Linked DNA regions of Homo sapiens: regions 1 and 2 are each reported to be linked to region 3. The links are microRNA targets in miRTarBase. Many come from high-throughput screens and were not tested one by one. Region 3 holds a microRNA gene; each other region holds the end of a gene's coding sequence.

The links. Region 3 holds the annotated microRNA hsa-miR-548bb-3p (CAAAAACCAUAGUUACUUUUGC, at 2,090-2,111, shown strand). A microRNA usually pairs through its seed, bases 2 to 8, with sites in the 3' UTR of a target mRNA and lowers its output. Matches are read on the target gene's strand: a 7mer-m8 pairs with bases 2 to 8, a 7mer-A1 pairs with bases 2 to 7 and ends in A, and an 8mer does both.
Region 1: miRTarBase lists FAM169A as a target of hsa-miR-548bb-3p. Seed matches in the 3' UTR shown: 7mer-A1 at 788-794 and 7mer-A1 at 910-916.
Region 2: the mRNA of PURA is a reported target of hsa-miR-548bb-3p. Seed matches in the 3' UTR shown: 7mer-A1 at 828-834.

What each region holds. Positions count from the first base shown.
Region 1 is chr5:74,778,132-74,782,197 of GRCh38, reverse strand. It overlaps FAM169A (family with sequence similarity 169 member A), which reads left to right. Exons shown (of 13, transcript NM_001376049.1): 13 at 190-4,066. The coding sequence ends at 738. It overlaps NSA2 (NSA2 ribosome biogenesis factor), which reads right to left. Exons shown (of 6, transcript NM_014886.6): 6 at 2,085-4,066. It also overlaps the pseudogene RNU6-1330P. Among named protein-coding and RNA genes, the nearest start is that of NSA2, 13 kb to the right of the region's middle.
Region 2 is chr5:140,114,829-140,118,894 of GRCh38, reverse strand. It overlaps PURA (purine rich element binding protein A), which reads right to left. Exons shown (of 1, transcript NM_005859.5): 1 at 1-4,066. The coding sequence ends at 3,745. Among named protein-coding and RNA genes, the nearest start is that of PURA, 2.8 kb to the right of the region's middle. RefSeq lists enhancers at 3,739-4,066, 3,619-4,066.
Region 3 is chr3:60,615,857-60,619,925 of GRCh38, reverse strand. It overlaps MIR548BB (microRNA 548bb), which reads left to right and starts at 2,056; the gene lies at 2,056-2,121. All of the region lies in intron 4 of FHIT (fragile histidine triad diadenosine triphosphatase), which reads left to right. It also overlaps the pseudogene MTERF1P1.

The DNA of each region.
Region 1 (4,066 bases), not on the chromosome of region 3:
TTTGAAGAAATTGAGTTGTATTCAGAATATATACACATATAGCAGAACAGAAATTCAAAAAAATACTCGATTTTGAGTAATGAATACCGAATTAAATTCTAGTTCAGTGTCACTGCATATTAGAGCCTGAGAATTTATTTTTAGAACTGTAGTACAAGTTTATTTGTTGACCAGGTTTTTAATTTTCAGACCCCACGTATACCTGACTCAGAAATGTTGATGGATGAAGGCACATCTGATGAAAAGGGGCACATGGAAGAGAAATTGTCCCTACTTCCAAGAAAGAAAGCACATCTTGGGAGTTCAGACAATGTTGCTACTATGTCAAATGAAGAACGATCTGATGGTGGTTTTCCAAACTCTGTGATAGCTGAATTTTCCGAAGAACCGGTCTCTGAGAATTTGTCTCCTAATACTACTTCCTCATTGGAAGACCAGGGTGAGGAGGGGGTATCTGAGCCCCAGGAAACATCTACTGCTCTTCCTCAGAGTTCTTTGATAGAGGTTGAACTTGAAGACGTGCCATTTTCACAGAATGCAGGACAGAAGAATCAGTCAGAGGAGCAGTCTGAAGCATCTTCCGAGCAACTGGATCAGTTTACACAATCGGCAGAAAAAGCTGTGGATAGCAGCTCAGAGGAAATAGAAGTGGAAGTGCCTGTGGTAGACAGGCGGAATTTAAGAAGAAAGGCCAAAGGGCATAAAGGACCTGCTAAGAAGAAAGCTAAGCTGACCTGAAGGAAGAAGAAAGTGGATGATAAATCCTCTTCTTTGTAACATAGTTGTTGTTTTTAAAATATGGTAATTAATAAACAGCATGGGGCACAGGACAAAAATTTCCAAAATTTCAATTTGAACTTACTTACTATGCAGTTTTTTGCTTCCCTTTAGAACGTAGAATTCACCATTGTTTTTAATTTTCCAGGCTATTTTTGGTAAATGCAATTTTTTATTTTTATTAACCATGTTTCAATTTTGGGAAACCAGATCATATTATATTTTCTTTATCAGGTGGTACATCTGACCATTATTTCAAAAATATAATTAAAAAGCTGTGAAAGTAGTAGGATTTCCATTACTTATAAGGATCACAGAAATCTTTTATACTAAGGGTTTTAATAGTAAAACTTGGTGAGGGTTCTAGAAGTTTTAAATTTCAAAACTAATCACCAATTTTTTAAAATGTAGGCATGCCTAAACAAAAATAAGTGTCAATAAATTAGAAAAAATATAACTTCAAGTAAATGAGAGCACAAAAACAGAAACTTACGGTCAAAGGTTCATGAAGATATTTTGGTTTTGGCCTCTTAATCCTAGATATAGATGCAGTTTTTTCCTTTGACTTCACTATCTATGGAAAGGTACACATAAAATCTGTTTCTGATTCATTCTATCATCTGATGTTAACAGTACTGTCAGGGATTTAACTGTGGCATGTGGGGACTAATTATTTAAAATTTCATTTGAAGTATTAGTTTGCTGTAATTTTTTTTGTCTGCATATGTGCAGACGCCTAGAAGTTTAGACTTTCACCTTTAATCAGGTAAAAATCACAACTATACTTTGGAGACATGGTTTAATTTGGACTTCTGGTCCTGATCAGATAGATAAATTAAGCTGGAGATTTTACTTTTATCCCAACCCAGTTAACATCTATATTTCAGAAGTATGAGGCTCCTTCCTAAGGCATCTCCTTAAATCTTGCCACCTCCCTAATTCTACAGTCTTATTTATATTCCCCCACAGCTTTCATCTACTTCTGTAACTCATGGAGTGATTCTCCAATCAACAGATCTTCCTGCCTGCCGGCTTATGCCCTTGATGTCCATTTTTGGGTAGGTTTGGAGGTGCACCCCACAATGTTAGACCTATATGGCAGGAGTAAAACTGCCCCCAGTGTTAGACCTATATGGCAGGGGTAAACTGCCTTTGGGGGAGCTGTGGTTACAAGGGCTTCAATCATATTGGAGGCTTCAATCATCCTTTGATTTGTACTGAGTACTGGTTGCAAGCTGGCCTGTTAAGTATATATTGTGTTGCCATAACAAAGGCCTAGGAAAATTTGAAGAAAAAAAACACTGAACTGTTATTTTTTGTAATTTATTTAAAAATGGACAAAATGGTTATTAGAATCCAAAGATAATCTAAAAACAGTTCTACTCTTTGGAAATATTATGTGTACTCAAATTTGCACTTAAGTTGGAGAATGTTTTGAGACCATTTAAATTGTTTTAAAAATAGCTTGATCTTGATCCTTATGCAAAAGAAACTAAGACTTTGTGTCATTATTTGAGGTAGCTAAGGACTGATGTTGAAAGTGTATTCAGTCTATAGTAAGCTGATGTCAGGTCAGTAAATTTTGTTTGGGGATGTTGGTATTTTCGATCAAGTTAAAATCTTAAAGCAGACAAAAATAGTAAACGCTCCTATTTGTGTTAGATTTTGAACAATTGTATTACCCTATATTTTCTTTAATTAGTCAAAGGTAAGCCAGATTATTTCATTCTAAATGAAAATTAAAGCACTTTGGCCATTTATTTTTTCAACAAATGCTAATACTAAGTAAAAAAAAAAAAGTATGACTACTATTAGTGAATCTACCAAACATTTATGCTGTTTTATACATTTTATGAGAAACTTCTGTCAATATCACAAAGGGAAATACTCTGTTAAGATTCAGTAAATTCTTAATCTTTACATGTTTCATTTCTTAGATTTGAAAACACTTGTAGATATTTTATTTTTACTTGGATTTGTTTAAAATACTTTCTTTTCAAATTATTTTAAACATGGAAACGCTTCATGAATTTGTGTCATCCTTGCACAGGGGCCATGCTAATTTTCCCTGTATTGTTCTAATTTTAGTATATGTGCTGCCGAAGTGAGCACTAAAAGACTTTCTTTAGACAAGTGTAGTTTTTTAAAGATTGAGCTCACTGGCTCAACTCTTGATGTGTGAATATAGTTGAGTTTACAAAAAATGTTTATTAATCATATATGACCATTGGGGGCTAACAGTATAAACTTATTCTTGTTAAACTTGTTTGGGTTAAATAGTAAGTGAATTGTAAACAATTTAGAAGTTTTTTGTTCAGCACACAAGAACACTTCTGTTACAGATTCTCTCTGACAGAAATTGTTATTTTGGGGTTTATAGATTATAGAGGGAAAAGTTAGATCACTTGGAAAAACCTAACTCTCATGTTCAGTAACTTGAGTATAGAATTTATACCACAATTTATCTTCAATAAGGAACCTACATGAACTTAATCAGTTATCTGTAGTTTTTGCAAGGCATTAGAAAAAATTTCACAATTACAGAGGACTGAAAATGTGATTTCAACCGGCTAGTCTAGTTGTTGAATGTCCAGTCACATTACACATAGTCCTTTGTGAACTTATTTGTGAAGGGAGTTCACTTTTTATGTACATACGTGTATATTTCCTTGTGTAATATAAAGCAGATGGTTATTAGTATTTTAGTTCTTTCAAGTTTAAATTATTCAATTGCTAGACATCACAGAAATTAGTATATTTAAGAATTTATTATAAAGCTCCTCTACAACTTTTAAAGGTGAGAGGGTCTATTATGATTTTTTTATAAAATCAAACAGCATGATTTAGAACGTCAGTCTTCTACTTAAAATGTGTCTATATTCATGGTATTTCCATTCAGTGTAGATGGTAAGGAAAACATCTAGTCATTAAAGATTTACTTATAGCAGACTCCAGAACACTACCTACAATGGGGTTTCAGTGACTAGAAATCTTGAAGGTTTATGATTGCATCAAATTGAGCCTGTACTAATATCTAAATATCTGCTCTTATGTTCTGCTTTATCCCTTGGGATTACCTTCTAAGGTTTGGTCACACCAGCAAACTGAAACAGATCTTAATGTACATAAAAAATTTATACTAATATTACTCATCTGTGTTACAGTATTTTGAAAAATGTTTCAGGTGTCATCTAGTCGTCTTTCATGGGTGTGATTAGTTACAAATGTTATGCTTATGTTTTCATACTTAATATCAAGCTTTCTTTGTACCTTACAAGATAGTATTTTT
Region 2 (4,066 bases), not on the chromosome of region 3:
AATTACTAGCAGCTTTCTCTATTACCTGAAAAATCAAATTGGAAGTTATCCATCTCTCTAGATGTGAAGGCCTGAAAAAACATAATATACTTTCCGCTTGGAATCAAATTTCAACCCCTGCATGGGACAACTAGAAAGTGAGACTTTCAAGGTTTTTTATTTCCCTGTTGGTTTTGGTTTCTACTCTCCATGGCTTTTTGAGAAGCTGGAAAACAGTTTGTCTTTTCTGACTAGCATTGTCTTTTTTTCCATTTGGCAAATATTCATCTACCTCCAATCTGTATCTAGTAGAGGAAAAGCCGACATGGCTTTTCTTATGAACTTCCTTTGTTGTCAAAGGCATGTATAATGATTTCTACAGTTCTGGTTAGTTAACTTTAGCTCCCTCTGTGGCTGGATGACTGCTGCTTCTAACATCAGCATGATAAATAGGAGGCACAAATAAAAAGTAGCTTAAAAAAAATTTGGTGATTTAAAAGAAAAAAACAACTCCAAACACACACACATACATAAGCATTTCAAATCTGGTGGCTGATCTCTGGATTAAATTACTTGACAGTGTCTCTCATTTTAAAGAACGTCAATATTGCAATGCAGTTCAAGTTTTCTTTTATACTTAGGCAAATAATACAGTTTAACCAAGCTCTTGGACCTTAATTGTAAGACAAAGCAGATCAATAAAAATAAGGCATACTTCTCAGGAATTAAGTTTTGTTTGCTTGTTTTTGGCACATTTGATCATACTGTCTTCTATGAATAACACATATGGTCAAATATACCATTTCCTTATTTGTTTCAGCATAAACAGGGTTTACCAACTAGTAAAATAAAAACAAGGAAAAATTCCAACATAAAACACTGATATATAGAAACTAGGTAAAGTACCGAGCACCTGGGAGGGAAGGGTAGGGAAAGGATGCAACAGAAGAGGGAAGACAAGGTTTGGGAGGGTGCTTGGGGAGGTAAAGTGAGATGCTTAAAAAAAGAGCATCTTTACAGTCACTTAGTCTTTTCTATGATCACTTTTTAAGTCTTAAAAGATCTGCATGTGGATTTCTTTTTAAACCCACTGACCATAAATCAGACACTGGTTTCAAAATCGTAGTTAGATTGTATTAAACTGTTTTAGTGTAAAGACAATTAATTGCACAATACATGTGCTTCTTGAGCCGGTGGGATTCCAAGCAGAATCTGAAGTCTATAGATAAGAAAGGCTTCACTTTAGGTAACTCTGGCCCTAAAGAAAACCTCATGAAAGAACTCGCATCTCAAAGAAAGGACACTTTGCCTAAGTTTGCTGTGTTTTTGTTGACTTGCACTACTTATTGCTGGCTACTATGAAACAGTGATCTAGGAGTACTCCAACAACCTGTAGTACAAGGCTTAACTTTAAGAAGCTATAGTAAACAAGAGACAAAATCAAAGCAATTCTCTTTCCTAATTAGTAACAGCACAGAGAATGCAGTCTTTTCCATATCACAGTTAAAGTACAGTGAACAAAACAGCTCAACAAACCTTAAGACAAAAAAGTGCAGGTTATTAATGTTTACATGCAGTTGATAAGCATTCCAAATGTCACATTATGCACTGTAAAAGCTCAACTTTACTATATGGAAATAAGAAAAATGCACCTCTGGGGAGGGGGAAAAGCAATTTAATCATTTCCAGTGATTTTGTAAGTAAAGAAACTCCTAACTACTGTACGGTCACCTCATATTTAACATTGAATATTAAAAGCAAACAATTTAATGGGAAAATGCACAGTACAATGAAAATAGCTTGTTATTCAACACATACAGTAGATCTCAAAAACGAAGACAACACACTCAACCAGGGAGCATAAAAATATCAAATCAAAACCCAAAGGACCAGCAGAAAAAAATCCTTCAAAAAGACAACTGTTTGCCTTCCTAGGCCAATGCTTTACAATATAAGAAGCACTGATACCTTCCCGCTCCTACAGGTGGTGTCTTATACATACAGCAGTTAGATCTATATGGCTGGATTTGCCAAGAAACAATTCCATCCCCAGAACTCTCTGTCAGACAAGACCCTTTTTTTTTTTTTTTTTTTTTACCAAAATACTTTCTACAGAATTCCAAACCAAAATGTACTGTTTAAGGCATCTTTTTTATAACATTTTCTCTTCACTCAAAGATGATAGTCATGCAGCAGTTTAATGATAAAAATATATTAATATTTTACTATACAGCAGCAAGAAGTTAGTTGTCAATTAAAAGCACACAAACATCTTTAAAGGAAAACCTGTAAAAGACTATCGTTACAAACAATTTCAGTTTGGAGGACACCAGCTTGGTAAAGTGCTCTCCTAAACTTTGCATTTTCATACCCTACACCTTGAATATATGAGTTATAGAACATACTTTTGATAGAAGGCTTGTACACTTGGGGAACACAAATACACTTAGCATATAATGTAGCCAGTAATAACTAGCACCACAGCTACATGGAAATCCTTTACATACACCAACTTGGCTTTCACTTTTAAAACAAAACTCAGAATCCATGGCTCAGTAGGATAACTATAATTGTGTTGCTCTGCTTTTTAACAGGTCTACATAAGTTAATAGCACTAGCAAAAATCAAAGAATAGCTTCAGACCTCTTACAAGTTTAGGAGACAGTGCTAGTGACCACAAATAGACTCACTACCTGATGTCCAAGTACAGGTTCACTGGAAATTGCTGCACGTTAGTTTTTTAAAATCTTTCTACACATAATAAAAAAAATATATTATGAACGATACAAGTACATCTCATATACACAATAATGACAAAACGCCTACTCAGTCAAAGCAAACAGATGCAGAAAAATATTATGGGAGATCTCCTTTTTCTTTCTTTTTCCTTTTACTATTTGAATAACTTTGGTTCCAACCATAAAAATCACAACTTAGCAAATTTCATTTAAATGCCTTTTTTAATAATTTCTTCATGTTCACAGAAGTTTCACTGACCATTTTTATAAGTTTAAGGTCCAGATGCAATGCATATTGTATAAAAGAGAGCACTTATTGTTTACCTTGCATGAATTAAACCTACGTACCTTTAACTCTACAAACTTCTGCATAACATTTAGACAAAGCTCAGACACACAGCATGCCTAGCCCTCATATATATACACATCTCTAATCACAGGTATATAGGGTGTCAAATATACTATAATAACCTCCATGTAAGGTTTGAAATTTGGTAACAAAATGAGAAAAACTAAAAATATTATTTTACGTGTTCTAAAATATCTCTTTTTTGTGCTAAAGTCAAATGTTAGCTCAACATGAAAAGGACTTTTATATAATTCAGCAATATTATAATCTTGACCATTTTGCAAACACTTTTTAATAATAATAGCTTAAACGTGTACAAAAGTTCTTGGTTAATTAGGGAAATAAACACTCAGTTCTTTATATTTTTTAATCAAGTAGGAAACACAGTTCATATAATGTTATTACTTTTTGTATTTTTTTTGTTTTTAGCAGCTGCTTACTGTTTTATATGGTGGATAAAGTGGACAACATCCAGCGATGGGTGGCAAGTCAAGAAGAGAAACTGTCAGTTGGTGGAGGTTCTGTGGGTGGTGCTCCCTTGGAGTTAACAGGTTTTTTTTTTTTTTTAACTTTTTAACTTTTTATTTTCTCTCTTTCTTTACAGTATATTTTCTGTGTGTGTGGCTGTGTGTGTGTGTGTATGCATGTGTGTGTGTGTGGGGGTTTCATTCAGTTTGATCAATCTTCTTCCCCTTCTTCCTCACCCTGCAGTAGCAGGGTGGCAGCGGCGGTCTCCTCCTGCTGCTGCTGTTGCTGCTGGTGAAGCTGCTCACAGGCAGCCCGCTTCTCCCTCTGCTTCTCTTGAATCTTCTTCATCTCCTCCGAGTACTTGCAGAAGGTGTGTCCGAACTTGGCCCACACCTTGTAGGGCACGGTGATGGAGTTGCGATAGGTGGGCTTCACCTCGCTCACTCGCATAAACACGCCGTACTTGTTGGAGCCCACATCGAAGAAGAAGCGCTTGTTGTCCACAGTCAAGGAGGTGCCCTCGGGCAGCTCG
Region 3 (4,069 bases):
TTTATCATACATGTTTCTTGCAAATATTTTCTCCTAGCCTTTGGCTTGTCTTTCTCAGTTGACAGTGTCTTATATCAAGGAGACGTTTTCAATTTTAATGAAGTCTAGCTTATCAATGATTTCTTTCATGGATTGCACCTTTGGTATTATATATAAAAAGTCACTTTCATGCTCAAGATCAGCTGAACTTTCTTGTACATTATTTTCTAGGAGTTCTATGGTTTTACATTTTACATTTAGGTCTGTGATTCATTTTGAGTCAATTTTTGTGAATAGTGTGAGGTCTTTGTCTAGATTCTTTTTTTTTTTTTTTTTTTTTTTTTTTGCATGTGGGTATCCATTTGTTCTAGATCCATTTGTGGAAAAGACTATGTGGGCTTTCTCTTCTGTTTCACTGATGTATTTGGTGGCTTTTGCCAATACCACACTGTTTCAATTACTATAGCTTTGTTCTAACTCTTGAAGTCGGATAGTGTCAGTGCTCCTACTTTGTTCTTCTCATTTAATATTGTCTTGCATATTCTGAATCTTTTGCTTTTCCATGTACACTTTAGAATCAGTTTGTTAATATCCACAAAAAATAGGTTGCTGGGATTTTCATTTTCTTTGTATTTATTAGGCAAAAATATTCCTTTATTTACATTTTATTCACATTTAGTTTTTTATGCGCACATTTAAAGGACTTTATTGTAAACAACGACAGTGATTCTAGAACAGTAGATAGCTTTTTTAAATGTAATTACTCTTGTAAGAGGAAAAAATACATGATACTAAAGGATTGTATTTTGTGACCACCTATAATGCAACAAATCATCTACTTAGTTGCTATGTTAATCTTTGCTGCTGTAACAAATTATCAGACTCAGTGGCTTCAAACAACACAAATTTATCATCCTGTGGTTCTGTAGGACAGAAGTATGATACTGGGCCCACTGGGCTGAAAAGGTACCAGCCGTACTGCATTCCTTTTTGGGGCCTTTAGGGGAGATTCTGTTTCATTGGCTTTTCAGTTTTCTTTGTGGCCCCCTGCATTCTTTGGCTTATGGTCCCTTCCTTCTTCAAAGCCTCCTTTTCACCTCCTTCAAAGTGGTCAAGTCTGTCTTATACAGCATCATTCTGACCTCTTTTGCCTCCTTCTTCCACTTTTAAGGACCCTTAGCATTATATTAGGTCCACTCAGATGATTCAAGGTCATCTCAAGGCCCTTAACTTAATCAAATTTCAACTTAATCACATTTGCAAAATCTTTTTGCATAACATATTCGCAGCTTCTTCAAATTAAAACGTTGACATCTTTAGGTGTGGCCATGATTCTGCCTGCCACAGTAGAACTTGTTTTCAAAGTAATCAGGTTTTGCCCTCAGCAAATTAACGCAGGAACGGAAAACCAAGCACCACATGTTCTCACTTACAACAGGGAGCTGAATAATGAGCACACGTCAACACATGGAGGGAACAACACACACTGGGGCCTGTTGGAGGGGTGCTGCTGGGAGGGAGAGCATAAGGAAGAGTAACTAATGGATGCTGGGCTTAATACCTAGGTGATGGGATGATCTGTGTAGCAAATCACCATGGCACTACCATCTCTACAGCAGCACAGCCTGTATCAAATAATGGTATGTTGGAGTAATTCAAACTGGAAAATAGGTAGCTAGGAGGACTGCACCTGAGCATATCAACCATGAGTTTCCATAAACCTGTAAAACAAAATAGCCAAAGAATTATTACATATATATATCTGTGGTTAAGAAATCATACCCCTCCTTTTTGAAAGGCCCAAATTCAAAATGAAAAGATACCACTACATTATATGACTGGCTTTCAAAAATTCCCCAGTGTTCTGCTTAACTTTTTAAATTTACTTTGTATCTTTTTTTTTTAACTCCAGAGTAGAAGAGTGATGCTTGATGTCCTCAAGTTACAGCCAGCATTTACTAATTCTTTGATTTGACTTTATAAAGTACTTATGCTTGAATCCAGAACCCAAGGATTTTTCAGTTATCACAAATTACTTTCACAGAAGGCTAATTTATTATTCTATGAGACAATCCATTAGATTGGTGCAAAAGTAACTATGGTTTTTGCCCAAAAACCATAGTTACTTTTGCACCAAGCTAAAATATTCTTCTCACTAAACTTTTTCTCTGCCAAAAGATCACATCTGGATAACTTTTTTTCCCCACATCTGGATAACTTAAGGCAAGCTTTTGTACCTCTTCTTCAGTACCTCAGAGAGAAAACAGCTTCTGTTTGATATTTGTGTAGTTTGTTTTGGCATAGTCATTGGAAAGGTCTAGGATTTTGGTTCCTGGACCACATATTAAAATAGCAATTCCCTACTGTTCAAATTGAAACTTGCCTGTAAAAATTCAATGTTAGTTTTTACCTGCTTGGTACCCTGAATTAAGATGAAAGGGTTTTAAAAAATCATCTTTCTTACAAAATCTGTGGGATCATTGTGACCCAATGAAAAATATACTTCCTGCAAAACTTTAACCATCTGTTTATTCAGATCGAGACTATTGGAAAAGGTACAAGGGACATTGGTCAACAATCAACAAAGGCATTTACAGGTAAATCCAGCTGAGTAGAGGAACTCATAGAATCCCTAAGTTTAGGTTTTCATGGGACAAAAGAAAGCATTCAGGAGAATGGCCCAAAATATTTACAGTATCAAGATCTGATATCATAATCCTTCATAGATCCCATTGTTTTGAAAGACGTTCAAGAGTGTGTGTTATAGCTTTTAGTTATTTTGATATGATGCTAACAATCACTTCTTTGCTAGCTCCTTTGGAACGAAGAAACATCTTCAGGTCCTGCTCATTGGGAACATTCTGTTAAAAACTCCAGGCTGTCGTTTCTTTGCCATGTCAGTATCCACTTCCATAGTAAGTTATTCAGTGGTTCCTCATTCTCCAAAGCTCATTGTCTGCATCGTTTCACTTCACACCAAAAAGCCTAAGTGAAACTGATTTGAAGAGCATTTCTGCTGAAAATCAGGTCATCCAACATTTTGAATTAAAGTGAAAGTTCTCATATACCAGAGATTTCTTGGTGCCATAATAGTCAGGTAGCCCAAACCTTTCGGAATGCTGTGTGCCGTAGATGGCTTTTACTTTGGCTTGGGATTTTTAAAACTGAGGTTGCATTGAATGTATAGGTCAAGTTGAGAAGAACTGATATCTTGACAATATTGAGATTTCCTGTCTGCGTATGTGGATAGCTTTCCTTTTTCTTAGATCTTTTGTATTTCTTTCAGCAAAGTTTTATAGTTTTCCTTATATAGATCTTTCACGTTTGATTTATACCTAAGTATTTAAATTTTTGGCATTAATGTAAATGGTATTGTGTTTTTAATTTCAAGTCCCAATTGTTCATTGCTAGCAATAAGAAGACAATTGACTTTGTATATTAACTTTTGTCCCACAAGCTTGCTATGATTGCTTATTAGTTCTAGAAGTGTATTACTTGTATAATTAAAAAAATTTTAAAAAAGAATCAAAGAGTATGGAGGAGAAACTTTCAGCACACCTGTGCACATCATAATCATTAAAATGTGATGAAATATGTTGACACCAGGTGTTGCTTTTGTGAATTTCCTGTAGTGGCTTAGAATCACTTTTGCTTATATTTTCAAATGTGAAGATTTGTATAATAAATTAAACTGAACAAACAAGAAAACATCTGGGGTGAGTTTTTGTAACAGGTGTTGTGTAAATAGGTCTTGTGGATATCCAAACAGGTGACACTACCTAAAATATACACACATGTTGGACTCAACATGCACAGAAACAAAGCATGTGGAATAGAAGAACCTAGACAATGGTAGTCCCAAGAATTGTGACCTAATGACAAGTGATATTACTGACAAGGGTGTTAATAACTCATAGACAGATCAGAGTTTCGATAAGGAAAGCAGGGACATCTCTCAATGTACAGCAATGAGGAAGACTTCATTTGTGCACATTTGTCTGACTTCCAAAGAACAGTTTCTTTATCTCTTTTTCTTCCACATCTCACTCTATTCTTATTGGTAAACTTCACTCGAACCATCCAGGGAAGA